Homo sapiens: one gene and its partner. The protein of the gene in region 2 interacts with the protein of the main gene of each other region in a pairwise test. Each region holds a gene or a part of one and is shown on either strand. Other genes may lie near its edges.

Region 1 (5,766 bases), on a different chromosome or scaffold from region 2:
TTCTTCAAGAGCCTCTATCTCATATCCTGCCAGGCGTGTGGCAGCCTTGGAAGCCAAGCAAAAGCCCAGCACTTCCCAGAGCCAGGGACTGACACGACAAGACCAGATGATTGCTGAGCGCCTAGCACGACTCCGCCAGGAGAACAAGCCCAGTGAGCAGGGGCAGATGGGGTTGCCTAGAGGACACAGTCCAGGGCTTCTGGGACTGAGATGCCTCTGGCCCTTACAAGGCTCCCCCCATGCCAATTGCAGAGTTAGTCCCCTCACAGGCAGAGATAGAGGCACGGCTGGCTGCCCTAAAGGATGAACGTCAGGGTTCCATCCCTTCCACCCAGGAAATGGAGGCACGACTTGCAGCGTTGCAGGGCAGAGTTCTACCTTCTCAAACCCCCCAGCCGGTGAGTGTTATGGCTTAGGAGAGAAGCGGGGGTGCTAGCGGGAGGACCCAGCAGAAGCCCAGATACAGGTATTGGGGTGATACAAAAGTAATTGTGGTTTTTGTCATTACTTTTAATTGCAAAAACCTCAGTTACTTTTGCACCAACCTTTGTACTTTATGTACTTTGCAGGAGTTGGCAAAGCCTCCCACCCCTACCTCCTGATCCTCAGGCCTGCTACCAGACCCGGGGACCAGGGACAAACAGCACGATAGGGTAGGGCAGGAAAAAGTGGCCCCTCAGTCCTGTTGGGGACGGCCAGACCTACTTGATTATGTGGGCCCTGGATCCCTCTCCTTTCCCTGGGCTTTGAGAACTACTTAGCATCCATCCCTGACCTAGACTGCTTCTGGGCTACCCCTGCTCTCCACTGAGGTTTCCTCGTCTGTGCAGGCACATCACACACCGGACACCAGGACCCAAGCCCAGCAGACACAGGATCTGCTAACGCAGCTGGCAGCTGAGGTGGCTATCGATGAAAGCTGGAAAGGAGGAGGCCCAGGTAACCCCTCCACTTGGCTCCCTAGGAATCTGCCCTACCTCTTTCCCCAGACTGGAGAGGCTCTGCTGTCCACCCTCTGGGAGATGAATATAAATCGGAGAGTGATCAACGTTATAAGAGTTACCATTCATTGAGTGCTTACTCCAAAGGGAGCCAGTGTAAGCCTAGTGTTTAAGTGCACGGGCTTTAGAATCAGACAGTGATTCCCATTTCTACCACGTATTAGCTGTGTGATGCTGGACAAGTTACTTGACCTAAGTCTCACTTTCCTCATGTGTAAAATGAAGGTATGTATGGAAAAACCTACCTCACAGGGAAATCAGGAGGAGTAAACGAGATAATCCAATAAGTGCTTGGGAACATACCTGACTCATAGTGAGTACTCAGTGAATATTCTCTGCAATCATGATGTTGATAAGGAGGAAGAAGCTATTTAGTAAAACCAGCCACATCTCAATGCTCAGTAGCCATATGGGCTTCATGGCTACCATCTTGGACAGCACAGATATAGAACATGATATGGAATGTTTCCATCATCATAGAACATTCTGTTGGACAGTGCTGTTTGAAGGCTTCAGAGCAGTGGTTTTCAACAAAGGATGATTTTGCCCCCAGGCTACTTGTGGCAACATTTAGAGACTTTTTGGTTGTCACAACCCAGAGGATATTACTGGCACCTACAGGATAGAAGCCAGGGATGCTACTAAATCTACTATGTCACAGGACAGCACATCATGATGAAGAATTACCCGGTCCAAAGTGTCAAGAGAACTAAGATTGAGAAGTCCTGCTTTAGAGGCACAATCTCATTGAATATCCTCAATAATCTTATGAGGCCAGGTGTGGCTCACGCCTGTAATCCTAAGCACTTAAGGAGGCAGAGGCAGGAGGGAGGATAGCTTGAGCTGGGGAATTTAAGACCTGCCTGGGCAACATAGCAAGACTCTGTTTAAAAAAAAAATCTTATAAGGTACATACTATTCTTTTTTATAAATGAGGAAACAGGCCTGGTGAGCTTGAGGAACTTGACCAAGGTCACACAGCTATTAAGCTGCAGAGATGAGACTTAAACCTAAAGCTGTGATTTTAAACCTCTTGCTCTGAAACACTAAACTGAAGGTGACTGTGTCAGAGCCACACCTAATCTGGTAAAATTCTTCCTGCCCAGTGATATACAAGCTCTTAGCTTCCTTCATTGCCCTCTCTGTGCTAATCCCAGGAGATGCTAATTCCTGCCCTGAAAGGCAAAGAGATCGGCTGAACCTGGGCCTTATCATGTCTTGATCCTTTAGGGCAGTGATTCTCAAACCATAGGACGCCCACCCTTAGGGCAGAATGTTAAAATATCAGGTAGATGGGGATGGATGTGGTTGGAAAAGACATGGGTAAAATTATTAGTTTTTTACATTTGGAAAAATGGAGGAATACTAATTTTATTTGTGATAGAAACCATAGGCGCTAGTGCTGAGCAAAAAGCTGATGATCTGTGATTAGAAAGGGTTGAGAAAAGCTGGGCATGATGGCTCACGCCTGTAATCCCAGCACTTTGGGAGGCTGAGGCGGGTGGATCACGAGGTCAGGAGTTGGAGACCAGCCTGACCAACATGTTGAAACCCCGTCTCTACTAAAAATACAAAAATTAGCCGGGCATGGTGTCACGTGCCTGTAATCCCAGTTACTCAGGAGGCTGAGGCAGGAGAATCGCTTGAATCCAGGAGGCAGAGGTTGCAGTGAGCTGAGATTGCACCACTGCACTCCGGCCTGGGTGACAGAGCGAGACTCCATCTCAAAAAAAAAAAAAAAGAAAGAAAGAAAGAAAGAAAGAAAGAAAGAAAAAATTATTAAAGAAAAAGAAAAGAAAAGGTTGAGAAATGGGCTCATTGGCTTCTGAGGAGAGATACTGGGATGTCTCGGCCTTGCTGATGGCATTACCCCTTCCAGCTGCCTCTCTCCAGAATGATCTCAACCAGGGTGGCCCAGGGAGCACTAATTCCAAGAGGCAGGCCAACTGGTCCTTGGAGGAGGAGAAGAGCAGACTGCTGGCTGAGGCAGCACTTGAGTTGCGGGAGGAGAACACGAGGCAGGAACGGATTCTGGCCCTGGCCAAGCGACTAGCCATGCTGCGGGGACAGGACCCCGAGAGAGGTGAAGGCTGGGGAGCAGCTGCTCACTGGTATCCCTTGGTCAAGGCCTCCCTGGCAGGGCTGAGTCAGGTGCTGGGGGTATTTGCGCCCAGAGATCTACTGAGCCCAGCCCAGAGCCACAAGGAAGGTGGTAGAGCAAAGCAGTGGGTGAGGAGTCAGGGGCAGCCATGAGGGCAGGGGACCTTCAGTCCATTCAGGGGCTGAGGCTTTCGCTCCAGCCCCCAACCTAGCCCTCAGGCCTGCTTCAGTGATGGCCCAGCCCTGCAGGGCTGGGGCAGGCAGGGACAGGTCATCAGGGTGGCTGAAGAGGCTTCTCAGCTCTGGAATAAGTGCCCCTGGGAACCGAACCAGTTCTGGGAGGCAGGAGGGCAGCCACTCATGTGAAATCTCTCACTCTCACTCCCCCATCCCCTGTTCCCATGTCTCCCTCTTCAAGTGACCCTCCAGGACTATCGCCTCCCAGACAGTGATGACGACGAGGATGAGGAGACAGCCATCCAAAGAGTCCTGCAGCAGGTGGGCCTGGATTACCCACCTGCCACCCCTTGTCCCGTCTCCGCCTCATTGCCCCACCTCTACTCTGGGGCTGGGTGGACAGTAACTGTGAAGCTCCTGTTCTCTTTGGGCCCCCTCCTGTGACCCAGACCCAGACCTGCCCACTGGTCCCTGGAGATAGGGAATCAGCAGCCACAGGCCACAAGTAAAGAAAAAGATGAGTTTGAGAAGCTAAGTCCACAGTGCACAGAAATACTGGGAGATGGAGGGCCTGGGCCTGAAGCAGGGGAGTAGTACATCTTCACCCTGTCCGCAGCTCACTGAAGAAGCTTCCCTGGATGAGGCAAGTGGCTTTAACATCCCTGCAGAGCAGGCTTCTCGACCCTGGACGCAACCCCGCGGGGCAGAGCCTGAGGTGAGAAAAGCCCCAGATGCAGACCCCCAGGCTCCCCCCAGCCTTGCTTCCTGCCTGGCTGACTGCTCCTGCAGCAGCTCACATACCCCACTGGGTACCTTACTTCCTCCATTCCTCTCTGATCCCTGAAGGCCCAGGATGTGGACCCCAGGCCTGAGGCTGAGGAAGAGGAGCTCCCCTGGTGCTGCATCTGCAATGAGGATGCCACCCTACGCTGCGCTGGCTGCGATGGGGACCTCTTCTGTGCCCGCTGCTTCCGGTGGGTGCAGGTGGAATGTTCTGTGCGAGAGCTCAAGGGCTGCCTGGATCCCTGACTTGTATCCCTTTGTTCCACAGAGAGGGCCATGATGCCTTTGAGCTTAAAGAGCACCAGACATCTGCCTACTCTCCTCCACGTGCAGGCCAAGAGCACTGAAGACACCCTGGTCCTCCCGGAAGGGCAGTCCCACAGGCAGCGGCACCCATTTCTGGGCCCAGCCACAGGACGTCCGATGGGAGAGCTTGTCTGGCTCTACTGATGATGGATAGGCCCCTTCCTGAGCCTTGGTGTCCCTGGAATGAGGAAAGATTCTCCATTCGAGAGAATGACTGGGAGGGAAGAAGTCGGGGCCCTCCTATTAGAAGCCCAGACTGGAAGTGAGAGGCATGATGGGGAGAGACCAGACTGAATCTACGGGTGAGCCCTGTAACCTGGCTCTAGGGCACAGGCCCCTCCCCTGGCACTTAGTGGGTCTAATAAAGTATGTTGATTCATTGGGCCCAGCATCTCATTTCTACAACCCTATGAGCCTGGGCCCTGTGAGAGGTGGCAGGAACAGAGCAGGCTGTAAGCACAGTTGTGGGGAATGGGGGAAAAGGTTGAGCCATCCTATGAACTTCTCCAGGCAGGAACAGCCCTACCCATCCTGGTGGCCTCATACGAAGTAAACATGTATTCATTCAACTCAACTGTGCTCCAGCTCTGGGCAGCCCCACTTAGCCACCAGTCCCCACCATCTTGGATTTCTCAGCCTCTCTACTACTCACACAATGCACGCAGGAACAATGCACACACACCCTGCTTCCTGCCTTACTGGCAAAGGACCCCAGCTCCTAGGGCTCCTGTCCCAACCTGCCTGCCATTCAGTCTCAGTATCTCTCTTCCAGTAATGCGCCCTAACCGGACCCCTGACCTCTCGGCATGTACCCTTTACATGCCTCTGCATTGCCTCTGCTGTTTCTCTTCCTGCCCCTGGCTGGAACCAACTATAAAGAGCCCTCGGGCTGAGGTCTACCTCCTGCATCACTTTTGGTTGGAAGAGCCTTTTCTGAGGCTCTCAGATCCAGCTAGGTTTTTCCTGTTACTTCCTCTCTGGGATTTGAAACTAGTCTTTGCCATTGGCGTCCCTCTTGTTGGTTATGCCAGTAGGCTGTGTACCTTAGGCAGATAATGTCTGCTTGGCCCCGAGGCCTTGCTAGATTGTGATCTCTCTGAAGTGGAGCTGTGACTTTCGTCTTTGAATTCTTGAGTCCTTTGGATGGATGGATGGATGAGGTGTGTGGGCACAGCCAAGTGACTTAGGTTGTGGCCTTCCTGTGTATCACTTCATTCTCTCCTCCCCTGTCCCTCAGCACAGATATGTTCCACACTCCATTGAGCTGGGGCTCCTAAAGGTTTTATCCACTTGGCTGCCAAGGAAGGCATTGGACAACAGCCAGCTTTCTCCCAGAGAGCCCAGCTGACAGAAACTAGCTGTGACCACACAGACAGTAGGAGTATGCAAATGTCCCTCC
Region 2 (9,211 bases):
AAATTATTCTGACTTTCCACATACTGTCTTTAAAAACCAATTGTAGCAATCTGCCCGCCTCCACCCTTTAAGCTAAATCTTTCACTGTGCTGGATACATAGACACTCGATAAATGTGTGATGATAGTTCTAAAATAATTATGCTATATATCAGGGTTCTGTATTTTTGAGCAATATCATTATTCCTATGCTGTGATGTTAAATGGAATTTATTTTACACTAGTAATAGACTGCTTAAGTGGCTGATTTGAAACCTTTCTCTAAAAAAACAAAAACATCTGGCAGATGAGTGACACAAATTCATTCTCTTAAAGGATAGAATTTCAAGTTAAGGATAAGGCACAATAAATAGGCACATAGAGGACATCTGTTTTTGTTTTTGGTTTTGGTTTTGTTTTTTTTTGTCTCTCTGACTAGCTAAACTGCCAACTAGAAGAATGGTTGTTATGTAGTAACTCAGAAGAATCTTTTAATAAGTTTCTTCTTTTGTTTCAAAACAAACTTGAGCTTCATTTCTTGCCACCTCTATTCTTTCTTCCCACGTTGGGTGACTGAACTGATGCTTATTCTAGTTTTAGAAGAGGATCCACATTTAATGTAAGGCATAAATATGCCTTTTGCAAATTATTGCTTGTTCTCCAGTGAACATTTGATCATATTCAACAGAAATCCACCATATAAACCATAATCCTTGAATTGCCCCTTTTAAAATAGATTGGTTAAAACCAAAAACCTATAAGAGAGAAATGATATTTCATTGTATTGTAGGTTTGGGAATCCTGGTTAGATTTATAATTTCTGGCCGGGTGCGGTGGCTCATGCCTGTATTCCCAGTACTTTGGGAGCCCAAGGTGGGTGGATCACCTGAGGTAAGGAGTTTGAGACCAGCCTGGCCAACATGGTGAAACCCCATCTCTACTAAAAATACAAAAAGTTAGCTGGGCATGGTGGTGCGCGCCTGTGGTCCCAGCTACTCGGGAGGCTGAGGTGGGAGAATCCCTTGAACCCAGGAGGCAGAAGTTGCAGTGAGCTGAGATCATGCCATTGCACTCCAGCCTGGGCAACAGAGCGAGACTTCATCTCCAAAAAAAGAAAAAGAAGAAAAAGATTTATAATTTCTGAGTCCCCTAAGTCCCTTTCTCAGTTTGCAATAATCTTACGTCCATGCTATTGACACTAATTTTGAAACTGGAAAGCTAATTAATGACATATTCATGTGTTCTTTCATCTAATAAACATTTATTAATGTATAGTTCTACACCAGGCATTCTGAAGGGTCCAAAAGAAAGTTCCTGCCCTCTAGTAGCACATAATCCGTTATTTCTCAGCACACCATGCCATCTGTTTATCATTCAGCAGTTAAGTAATTCATCACTTCATATTTTTACCAAAGTATATTTACAAGTCTGTTTATCTGGATCTGGCAAACTGGAAAATGTTTGAAGGGATACTCAGGCTTTGATCCATGCCAACATGAAAGGACTCCAAGCACATTTAAGTAGGCTGGTCTTTTCATCATGCATGATTTTTTTTTTAGTGCAAATTTAGACTTTAGTTTGGGAAAGAGAACAGTATACAGTATCCTTTGTAAGATAAATCACAACAACAAAAATTAAGTTTTATTGCACAAAGTAGATAAATGAGAAAGTCTTTCTTAAAAAATGCTTCTTTAACTGTAACAGCAAAACTAAATGCATATTTTATCAACCCCTTATTTCTAATTGCTGTATTCATTTCCACCCTTAAACTATTTAAGCATTTCATCTGCTGAAAGTCCTTATATACATGGTAGACGGAATATTTCTCCATTAATGATAGATCAAAATGAAGATATTTAAAAATTAACAAAATCAGGCCAAGGCAGGAGGATCACTTTAGCCCAGGAGGTCCAGACCAGCCTGGGCAACACAGCGGGACCCCGACTCCATTTAAAAAATTAAAAAAAAAAAAAAAACTTTTAACATTTAAAAAATAAAAATTAACAAAATTTCACTTATTCCAGGACACGCTGGCATTTGGACTCAATGAAAAGGGCACCTAAAGAAAATAAGGCTGACTGAATGTTTTCCATAATTTTCACACAATAACAGTCCCTTTCTATCCAGCTTGCCTTCCATTTATCTCTAGGGTTAGCTTTTCAGGCAACATCCTTGGTCATTGCCCAGAAAGTACCTGAGCTATCAGTGATTGGAATGGCACAGGAAACCGAATCACATGGGTGCCCTCCCCTTGGTTTTCAAGTATCTTGGAGTTGTGCACAAAAATTAGGTCATGCCTTCAGTGTCTTGTTCTTTAAACCTACCCTTTGACAATCAGGTGCTAATGATTGTATACTATTAAAACCAGCACATAAGTATTGTAAATGTGTGTTCCTCCTAGGTTGGAAGAAATGTCTTTCCTTCTATCTGGGTCCTGTTAAAGCGGGTGTCAGTTGTGTCTTTTCACCTCGATTTGTGAATTAATAGAATTGGGGGGAGAGGAAATGATGATGTCAATTAAGTTTCAGGTTTGGCATGATCATCATTCTCGATGATATTCTCACTTTGTCGCAAATCTGCCCTTATCGTAAGAACAAGTTTCAGAATTTTCCCTCCACTATACGACTCCAGTATTATGTTTACAATCCATTGGATGAGTGCAGCATTATAAGACCTTGGTGCCCAGAAAAATCTGTCCTTTTTGGTACCAAACCTGAGGTCTTTTGGAAGATAATGTAGAAAACCACTACCTATTGAAGGCCTGTTTTGGCTAATCTGTGCAAACTCTGATGATACCTGCTTATGTGGATTCTTTTCCACACTGCTTTCATTTTTAAGTATAAAGACTTAGAAAACTAGAATAATGCTTTTACAAATAATTAAAAGTATGTGATGTTCTGGGTTTTTTCCTTCTTTTTAGAACCCTGTATTTAAACAAGCCTTCTTTTTAAGTCTTGTTTGAAATTTAAGTCTCAGATCTTCTGGATACCAAATCAAAAACCCAACGCGTAAAACAGGGCAGTATTTGTGTTCCTAATTTTAAAAAGCTTTATGTATACTCTATAAATATAGATGCATAAACAACACTTCCCCTTGAGTAGCACATCAACATACAGCATTGTACATTACAATGAAAATGTGTAACTTAAGGGTATTATATATATAAATACATATATACCTTTGTAACCTTTATACTGTAAATAAAAAAGTTGCTTTAGTCACGTGGGTTGTTTTTTTTTTCCAATTTTTAAAATGCTGAAATAGTTTTGAACCTACAGGAAAGTTACAAAAACAATACAAATCTTCTTCACCCAAACCTTCCAGTTGTTAACATTTTGCCATATTTATTCCATTACCTTGTCTTTCTCTAATATGATTCTCTAGCACCCTTAAATTCTCTAGTGAGGACCTCCAAAACATAAGGACAGTCCTTGCATTGCCACCATAAAGTCCTCCTAATCAAGAAATCAACATTGGCACACCACCACTCATTCCATAGACCCCATTCAAATGATGCCAGCCATCCCGGCCATGTCCTGTTTTCCTCTCTGGCCTTGGATCCTGGCCAATACCACTTTCTTGCCTTTTGTCGTCGTGTCTCAGTTCTTCAGTCTGGAATGTTCCTCGGCCTTACTCTAATTCGCATGTGCCTGAGTCTCAGCACAAGGCTTTGATTGTTCAGCACAGCTCTCCAGCTGGCTCTATTCGGTGTTGCCTCACAACCAGGCTGTGTCACACACTCTTGGCAGAGATGCCACGATGCCATGCTCTCTTCAGGGTATCATGTGGAGAGACACACGAGGGCCACGCATCCCACCACCAGGGGTGTTCCCTTCGGTCGCGTAGTCAAGCTAATGTCCTCATTGTTTTCTCCTTTGTATTTATTTATTTATTTAGAGATGGAGTTCCGCTCTTGTCGCCCAGGCTGGAGTGCAATGGCGTGGTCTTGGCTCACTGCAACCTCCGCCTCCCAGGTTCAAGCGATTCTCCTGTCTCAGCCTCCCAAGTAGCTGGGATTACAGGTGCCCACCACCATGGCCGGCGAATATTTTGTATTTTTAGTAGAGACAGGGTTTCACCATGTTGGCCAGGCTGGTCTTGAACTCCTGACCTCAAGTGATCCACCTGCCTCGGCCTCCCAAAGTACTGGGATTATAGGCGTGAGCCACCGCGCCCGGCCTCTCCTTTGTATTTAATTAGCATTTTGTGAAGAGAGATTAAGGTGTGCCAATTTTTTGGTTTTTTTTTTTTTTTTTTTTTTTTTTTTTTTTTTTTTTTTTTGGAGGCAGGGTCTTGCTTCATTTCCCAGGGTGGAGTACAATGGCCTGGTCACGGCTCACTACAGCCTCGACCTCCCAGGCTCCAGCAATTCTCCCAACTCAGCTTACGGAGTAGCTGGGACTACAGGTGTGCGCCACCATGCCCAGATACGTTTTTTATTTTTTGTAGCGATGGGGGTTCACCTGTTGCCGAGGCTGTTCTCGAATTCCTCGGCCCAAGCAATCGGCCTGCCTCGGCTTCCCAAAGTGTTGGGATTACAGGCATGAGCCCCCATACCCAGCCTCAACTTGGATGTTTTTTGCCCTCCATTTTTTTTCTCTCACAGGATAGACTTGTGGACAAATGGATCACTTGCCTCTGGTGCGTTTTTTTGTTTGTTTGTTTTGTTTTGTTTCTTAATTTAGCGACGAGGTCTTACTATGTTGCCCAAGCTGGTCTTGATCCTCGGCTCAAGCAATCCTCCTGCCTTGGCCTCCCAAAGTGCTGGAATTACAGGCGTGGGCCAGTACACCCAGCCCTAGAACTGCTTTGATCATTGTATCCCCAGAAACTAGCACACAACGCTGCACACAGTAGGTGTGCATGCCTGTAATCCCAGCTACTCGGGAGGCTGAAGCAGGAGAATCGCTTGAACCCGGGAGGCGGAGGTCGCAATGAGCCGAGATCATGCCACTGCACTCCAGCCTAGGCGACAGAGCAAGACTCCGTATCAATCAATCAGTCAATCAATCCAAGCAAAACAAAACTGGCTTTGAACAGTCAGCGGCATCCCACCAGGGATTGAGCCCCAGTGTGGGGCACACTCTGTTTACATTAGCTAGCTCATTTATTCCCCACAAAAGCCAGACAAGGCAGGTACTAATTATGATCGTGCGATATTAAACATGGAGAAACCAACGCTCTGATAAGTTCGTTTTATTGTGAGAATAAAACTGCTCAATGGGCGCTGTTATTCCAAGCGAGGTCAGGATTTCCGGATTCTACCCCGCTCCGCCCCTGGCCCCGCCCCGAGAATGTACGTCCCGCCAGGCCCCGCCCCGGCCTTGTCCCACCCACCCCGTCCCCGCCCCCTGTCCGTCTCGCCCTAGTCCCACCTCCTCGTCCCCAGTCAGTCCTGCCTCTCGAACCGCCCCCTGCCTTCGCCGAGGCAGGGAGAGGTGCCTGCAGTGCGAGCCGTGGACGCTAGGGGGCAGCCGCTCGGCTCGGGCCCGACCGCTCTGGGCTGCGCTCCTCGCTTGCCCTCGGACTCGGCTCCCGCTGCGAGCGGCCGCCCTGCCCGCGCACCGCGCTCAGCGCCCACCGCCGGGCTTCCCGCGCCGGACCCAGTACCTCGGCTCCCCGGGGCCGGACCGAGGCCGCAAGCAGCGCCGCGGGGTGTGGGGCGGACCCAGGAGATGAAATGACAACGTCAACCCTCCAGGTACTTCGTGCGGCCCGGCCCGACTTCGGAGGCCGAAGGCAGCGGGGCCTGCGGGCCGCAGAGCCGGGCGGCGGGCGGGTGGTCAGGTGGGCGCCTCCCAGCCCCGGCCTCGCGACCCCGCTCCGGCCGCCCCCTCGCCGCTTCCGCCCGTGTCTGTTTCCACGCGCTCGGAGCCGGGTGGCATCTCCACCCTCAGGCCTTCCGGCCCTGCCCGGCTGGCCCAGCCCCAGGGCCGCTTCGTGTAGCCGGCGCCCCGGTACCGCCGTGGGGATCAGCCTCACCCGAGCCGCACAGGCACCCTCAGGAAGCTCGGCCCGGGGTCCGGCTGGGCGTTCAGACAGCGATGCTCGCTCCCTCCTCTCCTGTCTCGCTCCCTCCTCTCCTGTCCCGGGTCCTGGAAGTCCCTCGACCTCACTTCGAACAAGCCCCGGCCCCTTCCCCAATCTTCGACTTCCTCTTCTCGGCCAGCGACCCTTCATTCATTCCCTAGATCCTGCAGGGTGGTGCTGGGATGGCGCCACCTGGGTGAACAACTGACCCACCCTCTAGGTGCTGTCAGTCCTGCGGGGCCAGAAGAGATCAACATGCTCAGGCCTCATTCCGGGGTTTGAATCTCAGCTCTGCCACTCACCAGCAAGTGACCTTGGGCTAGTTTTTTTTTTTCATCTTCGGGTCTCGAGTTTCCTGGTCTGTAAAATGGGGTAATGCCCTCTAGGTTGTTGTGATGATAGCTTTAAATTGAATAATTACGGTAAAGCATTCTTGTATGTCTGGCACATAGTAGGTGTCCATTAAGTGACAGCCAACAAAGTGCCTGGGAGAGTTAGGCAAGACTTCATGGAAGAAGGGACATCAGAGTTCCAGTAGCATTCAGAGACCTGGAGGTGGAGGAGGGCAGAAGTAGGAGCAGACATGGAATGAGTTGGGGTACCAGGTTAGGAATTAAGAGTCCATAGCCAGATCCCACCGTACCACCAGCAGAAGCCGCAGATCCCGTCTGCCCAGGCAGGTTTTTTATGGCCCGTGAACCGAGAATGTTTTTCAGTTTCAAACACAGGTGTATTTATTTATTTTTAAATTTTATTTATTTATTTTTTTGAGATGGAGTCTCACTCTGTCACCCAGACTGGAGTGCAGTGGTGTGATCTTGGCTCACTGCAGCCTCTGCCTCTCAGGTTCAAGCGATTCTCCTGCCTCAGCCTCCTGAGTAGCTGGGATTACGGGCACCCGCAACCACGCCCGGCTAATTTTTGTATTTTTAGTAGAGACCGGGTTTCACCGTGTTGGCCAGGCTGGTCTCGAACTCCCGACCTCAGATGATCTGCCCACTTCGGCCTCCCAGAGTGCTGGGATTACAGGTGTGAGCCACGGGTCTGGCCTAAACACAGCTTTATTAAGGTATAACTTGCGTGCTTACCATATAACTCACCCGTTATATATTTTTGTTTTTATTAATTTTTTTTTTTGAGACAGTCTCATTCTGTCACCCAGGCTGGAGTGCAGTGGCACAATCTCAACTCATTGCGGCCTCCGCCTCCTGGGTTCAAGTGATTCTCCTGCCTCAGCCTCCCAAGTAGCTGGGATTACAGGCACCTCCCATCACACCCAGCTAATATTTTTTTGTATTTTTAGTAGAGACGGGGTTTCACCATGTTGGCCAGGCTGGTTTCGAACTCCTGACTTCAAGTGTGATCTGCCCACCTCGGCCGCCCAAAGTGCTGGGATTACAGATGTGAGCCACTGTGCCCAGCGCAACTCACCCATTTAAAGTGTATAATTCAGTGCTTTTAGTATATTCATGGTTGTGTGACCATCACCATAATCACTTTTTAGAATATTTTCATCACCTCCAAAAGAAACCCCTCACCCACAACCCCTCTCTCTCCCAGCCCTGGGCAACCACTGCTAATCTACTTTTTTTCTCTGTGGGTTTGCCTACAGAGAAACCCACTTTATATAAACAGAGTCATACAATAGGTGGTCCTTTGTGGCTAGCTTCTTTCATTATGACTTAACATAATGTCATAGGTTTTTACATTTTTTAAATGGCTTGAAAAACAGTATTTCATGACACATGAAAATCCTATGAAATTCACATTTCAGGGTCTATAAATAAAGTTTTATTGGAACACATCCCTGTTCGTTTATTGATATACTGTCTACAGCTGCTTTTGTGCCATCAAGGTAGAGTTGAGTCGTTGCTACAGAGATTATCTGGCTGGCAAATCCTAAATTATTTACCATCTGGTCCTTTACAGTAAGCATTTGCCAGCCCCCATTAGCACTCTTTTCTTTCATCCTCATCTTTTGCCATACGTGTTACTAGAGATGCGGCGGGGCTGGCAGTTTCTCACCTTACCCTCCTGTTCTGTAAAACTGTTTCTCTCCATTGAAACTTGGACCCCCTGTGTGTGAAAAACTGTATGTGGCTGCCAGAAAAGTCCAGTGCACTCTTTTTTTTTTTTTTTTTTTTGAGATGGACTCTTGCTCTGGTGTGATCTCGGTTCTCTGCAGCCTCCACCTCCTGGGTTCAAGCAATTCTCCTGCCTCAGCCTCCCAAGTAGCCGTAACTACAGGCACGCGTCACCACACCCGGCTAACTTTTTGTATTTTTAGTAGAGATGGTGCTTCACTGTGTTAGCCAGGATGGTCTCAATCTCCTGACCTCCGGTGATCCGCCCGCCTCCGCGTCCCAAAGTGCTGGGATTACAGGCATGAGCCACCGTGCCCAGCCCCAGCACACTCTTAGGTGTATTACTAGAATTTCCAAAAGGAGGGAGGGGATGGGTCAGTGCTGCTCCTTATGGGACAAAGAATACCTTCAGTATTGTTCTAAGGATAGACCCAAGCATGAAGCTACAGAGAGTGAAAAAGTCCAAGGTACTGGGGGTGTGTGTTCTGGAGACGAGAAGCCACCAGGGAGAGGAGCGCTGCCTTCCTGTCTCATCTGAAGGAACATCATGCAGAAGAGGGCAGACAAGGGCAGCCTGTGCCTAAGCTCATTTCCAAGAAGGTTTGGGGCTCCCAGCCATTCATTGTAGGTAGTAGAGGGAGCAGAGGCTTGAAAATAATGGCCAGCACTCACCCCTCTTCTCATCTCTTCAATCCGCTGAGTTCATTTCACATCAGCCTGGCCCAGCCTCCCCTGGCCTGTCTGTTTTGTCGAGCTGTCTGTGTGTGTTTCTTTCGGAGACTTCTTCCTTGCAGATAAGAGAGGGCTGAACAAATGCCCCGGCCCTGCCAAGAGCCGGTCAGGAGGTTTATTGTTTGCTGTGCCTGGAACCGTGGGTCTGCGGTGGGACTGCCTGCCTGGTAACTGGTGCCGGATCTGAGGAGGAGAATTCTGGTCATGCTTCGTGCAGGCGTTGGTGAAGCTGCGGTTTTTAAAACCAGGCTTTAAAACCATGTAGGTGCTTTACTGACCGGTCGCGGTGGCTCATTTCTGTAATCCCAGCACTTTGGAAGCCAAGGCGGGTGGATCACTTGATGTCAGGAGTTCGAGACCAGCCTGGCCAACATGGTGAAACTCTGTC

Evidence for each region.
Region 1: the proteins of VPS4A (region 2) and ZFYVE19 interact in binary tests that used the Homo sapiens proteins (3 or more experiments, as listed by UniProt).

Annotation. Positions count from the first base shown.
Region 1 is NC_000015.10:40,809,819-40,815,584, forward strand, and holds the end of ZFYVE19 (abscission/NoCut checkpoint regulator), read left to right. Parts: intron 1-33; coding exon 34-152; intron 153-252; coding exon 253-398; intron 399-569; coding exon of another isoform or gene 570-652; exon of another isoform or gene 653-653; intron 654-830; coding exon 831-939; intron 940-2,880; coding exon 2,881-3,084; intron 3,085-3,519; coding exon 3,520-3,599; intron 3,600-3,894; coding exon 3,895-3,993; intron 3,994-4,124; coding exon 4,125-4,252; intron 4,253-4,329; coding exon 4,330-4,408; 3' UTR 4,409-5,266; downstream 5,267-5,766. UniProt on the Homo sapiens protein: Key regulator of abscission step in cytokinesis: part of the cytokinesis checkpoint, a process required to delay abscission to prevent both premature resolution of intercellular chromosome bridges and accumulation of DNA damage.
Region 2 is NC_000016.10:69,305,855-69,315,065, forward strand, and holds the start of VPS4A (vacuolar protein sorting-associated protein 4A), read left to right. Parts: upstream 1-5,495; 5' UTR 5,496-5,657; coding exon 5,658-5,678; intron 5,679-9,211. UniProt on the Homo sapiens protein: Involved in late steps of the endosomal multivesicular bodies (MVB) pathway. Recognizes membrane-associated ESCRT-III assemblies and catalyzes their disassembly, possibly in combination with membrane fission.